Regions from separate parts of the Homo sapiens genome. Here all the other regions are linked to region 3. Evidence: fine-mapped expression QTL. A gene starts in region 3. Each other region holds a variant in brackets. All regions are shown on one strand. Distances are from middle to middle.

What was found. PIP is the estimated chance that this variant, and not a neighbour inherited with it, causes the effect.
Region 1: its variant is the best candidate, but not a certain one, in a credible set for the expression of ORC5 in whole blood (TOPMed, PIP 0.68).
Region 2: its variant is the best candidate, but not a certain one, in a credible set for the expression of ORC5 in whole blood (TOPMed, PIP 0.64).

Annotation. Positions count from the first base shown.
Region 1 is chr7:104,177,479-104,181,724 of GRCh38, reverse strand. All of the region lies in intron 8 of ORC5 (origin recognition complex subunit 5), which reads left to right. Among named protein-coding and RNA genes, the nearest start is that of ORC5, 28 kb to the left of the region's middle. The variant C/T (reference allele first, on the strand shown) is at 2,026.
Region 2 is chr7:104,227,962-104,232,207 of GRCh38, reverse strand. No RefSeq gene overlaps it. Among named protein-coding and RNA genes, the nearest start is that of ORC5, 22 kb to the right of the region's middle. The variant G/T (reference allele first, on the strand shown) is at 2,595.
Region 3 is chr7:104,205,885-104,210,130 of GRCh38, reverse strand. ORC5 (origin recognition complex subunit 5) reads left to right here and starts at 2,118. Exons shown (of 14, transcript NM_002553.4): 1 at 2,118-2,298. The coding sequence starts at 2,227. RefSeq lists enhancers at 1,940-2,099, 2,150-2,229, 2,270-2,459.

The DNA of each region.
Region 1 (4,246 bases), 28 kb after region 3:
CTCCTCCCGGGTTCACGCCATTCTCCTGCCTCAGCTTCCCGAGTAGCTAGGACTACAGGTGCCCACCACCACACCTGGCTAAATTTTTTTTTTTCGTATTTTTAGTAGAGACAGCATTTCACCGTGTTAGCCAGGATGGTCTTGATCTCCTGACCTCGTGATCTGCCTGCCTTGGCCTCCCAAAGTGCTGGGATTACAGGCGTGAGCCACCACACCCGGCCTCTGTGCACATTTTCTAATATGATATGACAGTCAAAGTCTTGGTAATATAACCAGTGTTTCCAATTATATCCTGTTATAAAGAGAGAGCAAATTCTTATTGAACTTAGTGAATAAACATATTTTCAAGGAGAAAAAAAATACCCATGAATAGTTTTTGAATTTTAGAGGAATGAAATGGGGAGAAAAAGCAGGTGCTTCACCTTGGTTCACAAAATATACTTTACTAAATTGCTAATTAGCAGTTCCATAAAACTATAAACTATAGGTAGATTAAGAGAGAAAATTTTCTCAAATCTGGAAAACAAAAACAAGCAAAAAACTAATGTTTCAAATAAAAATCATAAAAACATCCTCATCAGTTATTCAATCTCATGTAATTAATTTTTGTTCTGTTTGATCTTGATTAGCAGTTTCATGAGCCCATCATTTCTTCATTAGAGTTCTGATAGATTTTTATTGAGTCCATTGATCTTTAAGTTACTAGAAACTTGTATTTAAGAGTACTTGTTAGAATCTTATTTTATGAATCTGATTGCAAATGCTTTTAGATAAAAATCAGAACAATAACTGTAGGATGACAGAGACTTAGAATAGCCATGGATAAAAATTTGATGAAAGTTTACCATAATCAGAAATTGACAAGGAAATTTGATGATTTTTGTGGCATACATATAATGACCACAATTATGACTTGATGATATATTAGATCTCTAAGTTTTATGTAATTTTACACTGATATTAAACACATACCTATAAATATAACTGAAAGAAGATCCAGTATTACTTACCATTTGGCAATGCTTCTTACACAATTTACAAAATAAATTTAATCATTTAATATCTTTACAATATGAAAAATATGTCTTTTGAGGCTTTCCAGGGGCCTAGCTAGAAAATCCAAGTTAGTTCTAGGTCAAAAATATTTAATTTAGAATTTTGATATTGGGGAGGGAGGTCTATCAAAGATGTGAAAAGGTTTAAAACACCTGATCAAAACAGGATCACAGGTCACTGTGAAATGATAGTCATTCATTTAACCAGAATGATAATCAGAGGACTTCAAAAGCAATATAGAAAGTTACCTGGATTTAAAAAACATTAACCCTTTCAAAGCTATTTTCCTGAGTAATAAAAAATAAAAAACTAGTAAGAAAACACAGAAAGTTATCTTGATAAAATGCAAAATATTTGTTTCTTGGGACAGTTACCAAAAAAGTAAAGAAAAACCTCTTGCAGTATGATTGCTTCTCCTTATGGGAAGCCCATTTAGATAACCTGGAAGTTGAACCCAGTGAAAACAGTACTTGAATTTAATCAGACACAGGAAGAATGTGTGGTCAAGCTTGTGAGAACACACTATGAGTGTAAACAGAAAACTAGTACCTTGAGCAGGGAAGTACATGGCTTTTAGTAACAGCATGGGAACTTTTCTGGTTACATGGAATAATTCAGACACATTAAGAAAAGCCAAGTGTACAGAATCAAGTTATACTGGAGGAAAACATTGCTTTTGTAGGCCATCAAGACAAACATTTTAGAGTTAGACTTTAACAGCAGAGTTATAATCAGAGGAAAAAAGTGACAGGAGCTGATGAAAAAGTTAAAAGAGAGAGTTATCACCTCAATCAAGATTAAAGGTGTACTTTCTCAAGGGGAGAAAGAGTTGAAAGCAGTGATGTATGACATGCAGTAAGATGCAGCAAACATTAAACTTCTGAGATATAAGTCTGAGAAGCTTTAAGAGGAAAACTCTACCTCAAGAAATGAAATTACCATCCTAAGTGAAGAAGACAGCTTTACTAA[C/T]GTGAAACTAGAAAATTAAATGAAGACTGTGAAACAGAAAAAAAAAACAACAAAAAAAACTGCAGTTTAGAAGATGGCTATTAAGAAGCAGATTTCAGAATTCAAAGTGAAAACCTCTAATTTTTACTAAGAGCAGATCAATACTTAGGAAAAAAAAAAACTTCTTTCTAATATAGTGGACCAAAGTTTTAGTTTTATATTGTGGATTGAGGGATATATTTATGTCGAAGTTTAATCTTTGGAAAGACTTACAAATAATTCCCTTCTAATTACAGCCAGCTTGATCACACACAAATTTAATAAATCTACCCTTCACAAACCTTGTAATGACTTACGTAAACCATCCATGACATGCTTAGATCTTTAGTTATTTTCTTATACTTTTAAATAACTACATTTAGGACAAACTATTTACCACACAAAATTATTTCTCAAATTTATCCTTTTTTTTGACTGGGTGTGATGCTTCACACATATAATTCCAGCACTTTGGGAGGCCAAGGCAGGACAATTGCTTGAGCATGGGAGTTCAAGACCAGCCTGGGAAACATGGTGAGACCCTGTCTCTTAAAAAAAAAAAAAAAAAAAAATTCACTTTTCTTTTTAACCTTCTTTTACCAAAAATACATCTTTATACCCTTAACTTTGCACATCTGTGTCTCCTACTTACTGGTTCCTTTCTGTCATGTTTCTGTTTTCTTAAATTTACTTTCTAAAATAACCTTAAATAACCTTCAGAATTTTGACAAAATTATTCTTTTTTCTCAATAAAGAACACTTTTTTTTGGCTTTGTAAGAATTCTCATTAAAAATACATCTTATGTTTCGGGATACACTTTGTGTACAGAATTATATATGTTAATCAGAATTGTTAAGGTAACTTTTAGTAACCTTATTAATAAATGGTGCTAGGAAAACTGGCTAGCTGTATGCAGAAAACAGAAACTGGACCCCTTCATACATCTTATACAAAAATTAAGATGAAGTAAAGACTTAAATGTAAAACCCAAAACCATAAAAACCCTAGAAGAAAACCTAGGCAACACCATTCAGGACATAGGCATGGGCACAGACTTCATGAATAAAACACCAAAAGCAATTGCAACAAAAGCCAGAATTGACAAATAGGATCTAATCAAACTAAAGAGCTTCTACACAGCAAAGGAAACTATCATCAGAATGAACAAGCAACCTATGGAATGGGAGAAAATTTTTGCAAGCTACCCATCTGGCAAAGGTCTAATATCCAGAATCCACAAGGAACTTTAACAAACTTACAAGAAAAAAACAACCCCATCAAAAAGTGGGCAAAGGATATGAACAGACACTTCTCAAAAGAAGACATTTATGTGGCCAACAAACATGAAGAAAGCTCATCAGCACTGGTCATTAGAGAAATGAAAATCAAAACCATAATGAGATACCATCTCAAGCCAGTTAGAATGGCTATTGTTAAAAAGTCAGGAAACGATGCTGGTGAGGCTGTGGAGAAATAGGAATGCTTTTACACTGTTGGTGGGAGTGTAAATTAGTTCAACCATTGTGAAAGACAGTGTGGTGATTCCTCAGGGGTCTAGAACCAGAAATACCATTTGACCCAGCAATCCCATTACTGGGTACATACCCAAAGGATTGTAAATCATTCTACTATAAAGACAAATGCACACCTATGTTTATTGCAGCACTATTCACAATAGCAAAGACTTGGAACCAACCCAAATGCCCATCAATGATAGACTGGATAAAGAAAATGTGGCACATAAACACCATGGAATACTATGCAGCCATGAAAAGGATGAGTTCATGTCCTTTGCAGGGACATAGGTGAAGCTGGAAGCCATCATTCTCAGCAAACTAACATAGGAACAGAAAACCAAACACTGCATGTTCTCACTCTAAGTGGACGTTGAACAATGAGAACACATGGACACGGAGGGGAACATCACACACTGGGGCCTTTTGCGGGGTGGAGGGCAAGGGGAGGGAGAGCATTAGGACAAATACCTAATGCATGCAGGGCTTAAAACTGAGATGATGGGACGAAAGGTACAGTAGATCACCATGGCACATGTATACCTATGTAACCTGCACGTTCTGCACGTGTATGCTAGAACTTAAAGTAAAATTTAAAAAAACAATAATTCTCATTAAAAACACATCTTATTTTTGGGGGTATACTTTGTGTACAGAATTATATATGTTAGAATTGTTAAGGTTACTT
Region 2 (4,246 bases), 22 kb before region 3:
TACCCTGTCGAGAGCTATGCCACTGTGGGACACGCGGCCAAGTTGAGGCGAAGAGGCACCCCTCTCCTCTCATGTCTTTTTTTTTTAATTGAGAGAGCATAAGAATAATCTTTTCAGTGGGCCAACTATAGATTACTTGGTGATAGGGAAATGCTCATTTTGATGTTGACTTAATTTAGATGTTAGCTGTTTACAGGAATTTTCTGGGAAACCCAGCTGCCTAGCACTTTAGAAGTCTTGGGGCCAGTAAGAAGTTGCAGCCGTTCCTGTTGCGGGTGGAAGGTAGCTCCTGCCCAAACTAGTTCATTGTCCAGGCAAAAGAGAGTCCTGGAATCTCTATCAGTTACTTTCATTGCGGTACCATCATTCCATCCTCTAACCTCAGCTCTCCTCACATACCTGACACGGGAGGAGAGAGAGTGAGCAGTTATTTGCTTCCCCTTGCACCCCAGGTCCTTTATTTTGGGGTTCGGATATGTCTAATTCACCAGTTGGGGTTTGTTAAATCCCTGAGGGGCAAGGCACATTCTGGGTCCTTTCCTTGTGATGTGAGCAGCTCTCGGGAGCCAGTTGTTATTTTGACTCCAAGGGTGACATCTAGAGGCAGAGCCGAGTAGCTGCAGCGCTACCTTCAGTATCTGAATCTTCCTCTCAGCAATCAGCTGAGGTCCTTTCCCGGGTGACCAGGACTACGGCCAGGGGACAGGGGTCGCGGGCAGAGACTTCTCCCACAATTTCGATCCTTCATTCCCATTTCAGACGGCATTCCGGTCAGACTTGGCCCTCCACTCTGGAAGCCATCAGCAGGGAGTCGTGATGAACTGTCAAGATTTAGCAAAAGACCAAAAACTAAGTCCGGTAAGAAGTGTGCTCCCTGCTTTGAGCATCAGCGACCCCCCTGGAGCGGGAAAGGAGGGCGGATGAAGCAGACGACCAAGCCCCACACGTGTCCTCCAGTCCAAACAGACACGACCAGGGTAGGAATCCTCTGGCTCTCTGCTAGCGCTGGTTTGCAGGGCGGCACCAGGGTTGGGTGGATGGGGCCAGCGTGAGGCCTGGCCGGGTCACACTCACCTTCTAGGACTGGGAGGCTGTGGATTTGGAGGGCAAGGACAATTTCCTTGATCTCTAAGGAGAATCGAATTTCGCCATCCCCAGGACCTTCTTGCCCATTGTCTTCCTCATGGCTTTCTTCCCTCCTCACTGACTTTCCAAGAGGTCCCCCAGTCCCCCAAAAAAACTGCTCCAGCTTTTTTCTTTCCCGTTTACCCAGCCCCAGAAGCTTTCGTGCATCCAGTCAGGGTTTTTCTATCAGTCCTCTGCTTTTTTCTTTCTCTATCCCACAGCTGCAGCTGCCTACGAACACCCAAGGAAATGGGCCCAGAGCCAGACCTCATCACTGTCCTTGACAACCCCTCCACTCAATTGAGGGATTTTCCTAATTTGGCATGCTGTCTCCAGATGGTGCAGCCTCTGGCTCAGGGAAAGCTCACGTCAATACTGTTCAAGAATGGGGAGGGCATGCCTGCCCCCTCCTCTTTGGTCAGTCCAGCAATTTTTCCAGCAATAGTAGGCCCTGCAATTGTTTGATCTTAATCTATGGAGTTCCCATCCATAGATGCTTCTCTCTAGAGGATGTCCATTTTTTTTCTGCCCAGAATCAGGTGACACTACTGACCACCTACCCCTTTTCCAGTCTCCCTGGTTTAATCTAGAAGTTTCAGAATCAGCTTACTGAAAGGCAGTTTGGTAAATACATTAAAAGTCTTCAAACTCTATAGACATTTTGTCCTAGTAATTCCAATTCTAGGATGTTAACCCAAGAAAATAATTGAACACATCAAGATCTATATACAAACATATTCAGAGAAATTTTTATAAAAGGAAAAATTGAGAATAACTTTAAGGTTTAGTTGGTGGTTGGATAAATAAATCACGGTGCACCTATGCAAATGAATTCTATGTAACAGCTATGTTGTAGCCATTTTAAATTACACTGGAGATCTGTAGTTCCTGAAATTAAAACATATTCACAATTTCCTGTAAGGAGTAAAGCAATCTACAAAACAGTACATGTAATATGTTCCTGATATGGTTTGGATCTGTGTCCCTGAACAAATCTCGCGTCAAATTATAATCCCCAGTGTTGGAGGTAGGGCCTGGTGGGAGGTGACTAGATCATGAGGGCAGCTTCTCATGAATGGTTTTCACCATCATGAGATGGTTTAGCATTCTCATAAATGGTTTAGCACCTTCTCCTTGGTGCTGTTCTCATGATAATCAGTGAGTTATCATGTGGCATCTCCCCACACCTTTACTGCTGCTCCAGCCATGTGAAGACAGCTTACTCCTGCTTTGCCTTCTGACATGAGTAAAAGCTCCCTGAGGCCTCCCCAGAAGCAGATGCTGCCATGCTTGTTGTACAGCCTGTGGAACTATGAGCCAATTAAACCTCTTTTCCTTATAAATTACCCAGTCTCAGATATTTCTTTATAGCAATGAGAGGATGGGTTAATACAATTCCCAGTACATGTCTCATTTGACCTTCTGCGCCATTTAACACTGCTGATTATTCCCTTTTACTTAAATCTTTC[G/T]TAGTTTTTATGACACCTCTTTCTTCATTCCTAATTTTTCTGTAATTTCTCTGGCTGCCTAGGCCTTCTCCATCTGATACTCCTCTATTTTTTGCTCACTTCTGAATGCTAATGTTTCTCAGGCTTCCATACTCTCCTTCTTTTATCTTCTCATTCTATCCATTCTCCTTGAGTGACTTCACTTATTATATGAATTTCACAACCATCTAAATGTTAATGACTCCTAAATCTAAGTGTTTAGCTCAAATGGCTTTCCTGAGCTCCTGAATCATTTAGCTAACTTGGCATCACCATTTGGATGTTTTCCAGGCCCCTCATATTCTACCTGCCTGAAACAGAATTCATTTTCCCTCTCCTAGTATTCCTGACCTCATGATGGCCACTGCTCCACTCAGTATCCTGGCAGTCATTGTTGTACTCTCCCTCTCTTTAACCAAACAAGTTTTATTATACCATCTAAATTGCCTTCAAATCTGTGTATTTCTCCTCATTTTCTCTTCCTGGTGTTGGTTTATCTAACAGACAGATTTATTGCATGAGTAAGGCACTAGCAGACTATGAGATTTCAAGTAGCCCTCAGAAATTCCTCACTGGCCAAGACTCTAGGCTCTTTGTCATGTAAGAATTCTGTAATACCTTCATCTGAGAAAAAGATGAACATTGATAAACAGGTACCAGAAGACCATAATACTGAAAGATGTACAGTGTCCTCTTTCTAAGAAATAATTGATACATTAATGTAAGTGGAAGAAATTAAAACATCAGATGTTCTTCAGAATCATTTTATCTTACTCAGTCTTGGGAATTTCTGTACACTGTTTACTTTGTCATGTTTATGATAAGCAGTAGAGGAAGCCCATCTCTAAAAGCTCCAAATAAGAGAGAAGAAACACCGTACTTAGACATTCTCACTGTTGATCAACTCAAATGTAAAAAAGAGGCATTTACTTTGCAACCTCCTCCCTAGGTAAGCAATGACCGGATCATATCTGCAGAGTTGAACTGTAAATAGACATTATCAGCTACTCAGAGGGCAGGAAAGGAATTCACTTTTAGAATTAAGAAATAGTTTCAAAAAAGAAAATTCACCAGTAGAAAATTGAGAAACCAGTGTGTAGATAATATCTAACTGTAAATGAACAAAAATGTTTAAGAAGAAGAAAAGGACATTGTTTAAAAGCCCTTTGTCTGGGCTGGGCATGGTGGCTCATGCCTGTAACCCCAGCACTTTGGGAGGCTGAGGCAGGAAGATTGCTTGAGGCCAGGAGTTCAAAATTAGCCTGGGTAACGTTGTCTGTTAGAAAAATCTTGTCTATTAAAAAAAAAAAAACCTTTTGACTGATATCTGTTGCCTAAAATTCTGAGTCTTTCAAACCAGATGATTAATTTACACTTTGCAAGGAGGAGAAAGTCATCCTTAATCTTTGTCAGATAATTTCTTCAAAACACCAGGAATCAAGGAAACAAACAAAAATTGAAAGTAACTTAATATTTGATATATCAAAAATATATATTTAACGTAAGAAAATATCATAACATAATTGAGTTTTCTTGCAATTATTTTATGGCTCAGTATAGTTTTTATTTGAAATACACATGGGGTACAGTAGTATACATCATAATCTTTGCAATAGTTGAGTCCTTAATGTGAC
Region 3 (4,246 bases):
GACTGCTGTGCTAGCAATCAGCGAGACTCCGTGGGCGTAGGACCGTCGGAGCCAGGTGCAGGATATAATCTCCTGGTGTGCCATTTTTTAAGCCCGTCGGAAAAGCGCAGTATTAGGGTGTGAGTGACCCGATTTTCCAGATGCTGTCTGTCACCCCTTTCTTTGACTAGGAAAGGGAACTCCCTGATCCCTTGCATTTCCTGAGTGAGGCAATGCCTCGCCCTGCTTTGGCTCGTGCACGGTGCACTGCACCCACTATCCTGTGCCCACTGTCTGGCACTCCGTAGTGAGATGAACCCAGTACCGCAGATGGAAATGCAGAAATCACCCGTCTTCTGCATCACTCATGCTGGGAACTGTAGACCAGAGCTGTTCCTATTCGGCCATCTTGGCTGCCTATCGAGGCCATTATTATTCACTGTTTGGGAGACTGCAATAGTCGTTTCAACAAATGAAATTGATTCCACTTTCCACACTGTAGCCAGAAGGAATATTTCTAAGTCAAATCTCAACATTTGCTTCTCTGCCTACAATTCTTTATTGGTCCCCAGCCTGACCTCCTACTACTCTCCAGGTTTATATGTAAAAACTATTTGCTAGTTTCAGTTATGGGATTGCCCATTTGTCCCTTTTTGTCTGTACATTCTTTTGTTTACAATTTCCTTCTTGGTCTCACAGGTGAATCTTTTCTTCAGCCTCAGCTTCCAGGTTCTCTCCTCTGAGAAACCATCCTAAATCATCCAGATGGTAAGGCATGTTCTCTCAGATCAACAATTATCTTTATTATGTAACTGCCAGGCGTTAACTGTGTATGCTGGAAATTGAACTGTGAAGACAGTGTTTCCTGTCCTCATAAAGTATATAGAGAGGGAGACTAACATTTTAGACAGTTTAGTCAGTTTTATTGAATGCTATAAAGATGTCGTGTTATGATTATAATATATGTATACCTTATATGCACAGTATGTTACGGACGTATAACCATCTTAGGAGAGTATCAGAGGCCAGCTTCCCTTGGAGACATTGAAATTTAATGGGTGGTCCCATTATAACCTTTAGAATTCTCTATTAAAAAGTACCTGGGCAAATGCTTTTGAATTGTTGCTGTGAAAATACTATTTTGACTAGCTAATACGTTATATACCACAACTCTCAAAAGATCCTTTTGACCATCACAAATCTAAGACTGATCTACAATCTATGGGCAGATTGAAGTCCACAATTTAAATTTATGTATAACAGGTAGTATGTACAGGATCTTCTACTCCTAGCAATAACCTAGCCAGTATTATCCCTATTTTATAGATAAGGAAGTTGAGGCTCAACTATTCCAAAGTCCCCCTATTCAGCAGTTGAGTCAGTCAGTGGTCCCAACCCAGGGGTTTCAGGACGCCAAGCTCTCTTTCCACCATGCACTTGCCTACTTCTGTATCTTATTTCCAGAATCTTCTAGTGTTTAGTCGCTAGTAGGTGCCTCACAAATAAATACACGTGAAAGCCTAATGCTAAAAGTAGCATTATTTTTACTATCAACCTCACCAACACACACTACGACTTCATCCCATTAGGACTGAGAGGCTTTCCACATCTGGTTTAAAGCTTGCACAAAAAATAGTAATTCCAAGCTGTGCATTAAACCCCATTACACCCTGTTTTGTACTCAATGCCACTAATTTCCCACAACGTCGTCAGGGAAAAAAACGACAACAAAAACATCTTTTGACAATATTAGTCTTCTAAGTCCGCCTTCCACGTCCCTCTAAGGGCCCCAGCTCCGGGTCCGTCTTCTTAGGCACTCAAGGTTTCTAAACTTGGGGCTTCCAGCCGGTAAAACTAAAGGCACGGGGTTCAGGGGTCATTGGAGGCCCACGGGACCCCCTTAACCCCTTCCACCCCTTCCCTATTCGCCCATCTCCATGTCGTCTCCTTAGCCTTTGAGTGGAAAAAGCGTCAGCCCGAAATCCCCACCAAGCCCAAGAATGGGCAAAACCTCGGCGCGCACAGGACCAGCGAGAAGAGGATGGTTCCGGCCCTGAGACTAGAGCGGCGGCGACGCTCGGCGTACGCGCTGCCGTCACGCCGCAGCCCGGCAGCGCAGGCTCCTCCCACGACGCTGCGGGTCCGGTTTCCGGCGGGAGCGTGGGCCGCCAGACTCGGGAGAGGCTCCGTCTTGTGCAAGGGTCCTGTGGGCTGGCTGCACTGGCCTCTGCGGTGGTGCCTGCCAGAATGCCCCACTTGGAAAACGTGGTGCTTTGTCGCGAGTCTCAAGTGTCCATCTTGCAGTCCTTGTTTGGAGAGGTATTGTAGTTAAACTGTCTTCCAGATCCTGGAGGCAGACGTTTCGGTAGTCTTGCGACCTGTTCCAATATTTGTTTTTTCGTGTTTGGATTGAGGGCCAAAAGGCCGTTTTTACGTTAAATAGGGGTGTTGTGGTTCTGTACTGCAGCTTCACCCACAGTCTCTTCCGAATATTGAAGAGGAGACAGTCTGAGAGCGACCGGCCTGCACTATAGGACGTTGCCTAAGACGTATTTGAAACACGCCACACTTTTCAGAAGTTTGCCCACATTAGCTCCTAGAAGTTGCTTGTTATCTTACCCCAACCCAATGACATTTATGTAACAGATGTGTTTGCAGGGTGTTATTTATTCAAATGTAAGTTCACACGTTTCTGTGCGGTAGTTGGAGTGAGTCAAGTGTAGAGAGGTGGTTGCTTTCAAGGCCACTAAGGGCCAAAGCAGTGCTTCAGGTTTAAAAATTTACTGGCTTTTCCAGAATTGTAACAGTCCAGAAGAGGTCTAGGGTAAACTTTTCTCCTTAACTGATAGTTCACAGGATGCCCTAGAGAGGAGTTTGTCTTGTCTGGATGAACATAGATACGTAGGGAGTCCTTTCAATAGGCAGAGGGTAGCGTTCACCAATTCAAAATTTAACCTATTTTTGACTATTTTCTGGTGGTCTTTGATGTGCTTTTTGATTCAGACTCAATCAGAATTGGAATTAATCAAACTTGGATCTTACCTGCGAAGAGAGTGAATGAGAATTCAGGGTCATACTCATACCCCCATCTTCTGGTTTGCTTTTTTAAGTACAGTCATGCGTTGCTGCCACTTAGTGAGGGGGATACGTCCTGAGAAATGCATCGTTAGGCAATTTAATCCCTGTGAATATCAGAAAGTGTATTTACACAAACCTAGATGGTGTAGCCTGCTATACACCTAGGCTGTATGGTGTAGCCTGTTCCTCCTAGGCTATAAACCTCTACAGCGGTGCTACTATACTGAATACTGTAGGCAGTTGTAACACAGTGATAAGTCTGCATCTAAAAGTGTCTAAACATAGAAAAGGTACAGTGAAAATAGGGTATTATAATCTTATGAGATCACTGTTGTATATGTGGTCCATCTTTGAATGTACACGTGACTGTACTTTCATCCAACTAGAAATATTGCATGGCAATTTGAGGTGGCCTGTGAAGCATTAGTGGAAAAGTACTACCCTCTGTCTAAAGGGGTGCATTATTTAGGGAAGTTAGAGGTCAACAACTGCATCTTCAATTAATTTTCTATTTATACTGCTTTCAATTATAGTTATATTATTACTGGAGCATTTTCTTGATTATGTTCTCTGCATTTCATCTATGGAACGCAGATCACTCCAGCCAGAAATGTTCCTGCTGAAAGAGCAAATTGGCAAATAGGGATGAGTAAACTTAGTGGTGGATCACAGAAGAGTTTTTGACCTTTGCTTTTAATGAAAATTATGTTTAACAATATTTTAATATCAGTTTTCTGCAAGGTGCTGTGCATGTGGGAAATACAAACAACTATAGCAAAGAAATATAAAAAATTGGTTCATGTTTCTAAGAATACTCATTTATTTGTTCAATAAATAAATATTTACCGAGCACCTTTTCTGTGTCAGGTACTAGCTTATTGCAGTTTATGTTAGCGAGATTTATGAAGGTGAAAGGTTAAATAACAGTGGAACAGTTCAATATAATTCTAGGTCACAATAGAAAAGATGTTTAAGGTATTATTAGGCAACAACATGTAATGGATAGCAGAGATACTCAGCAACATGCATTTAATTCTTGAGACAGAATTTTTTGTTTTTGTTTTTTGAGACAGGGTTTGGCTTTCTTTCCCAGGCTGGAGTGCAGTGGCATGATCTTGGCTCACTGCAGTCTCTGCCTCCCAGGCTCAAGCAGTCCGCCCACCTCAGCCTCCGAGTAGCTGGGACCACA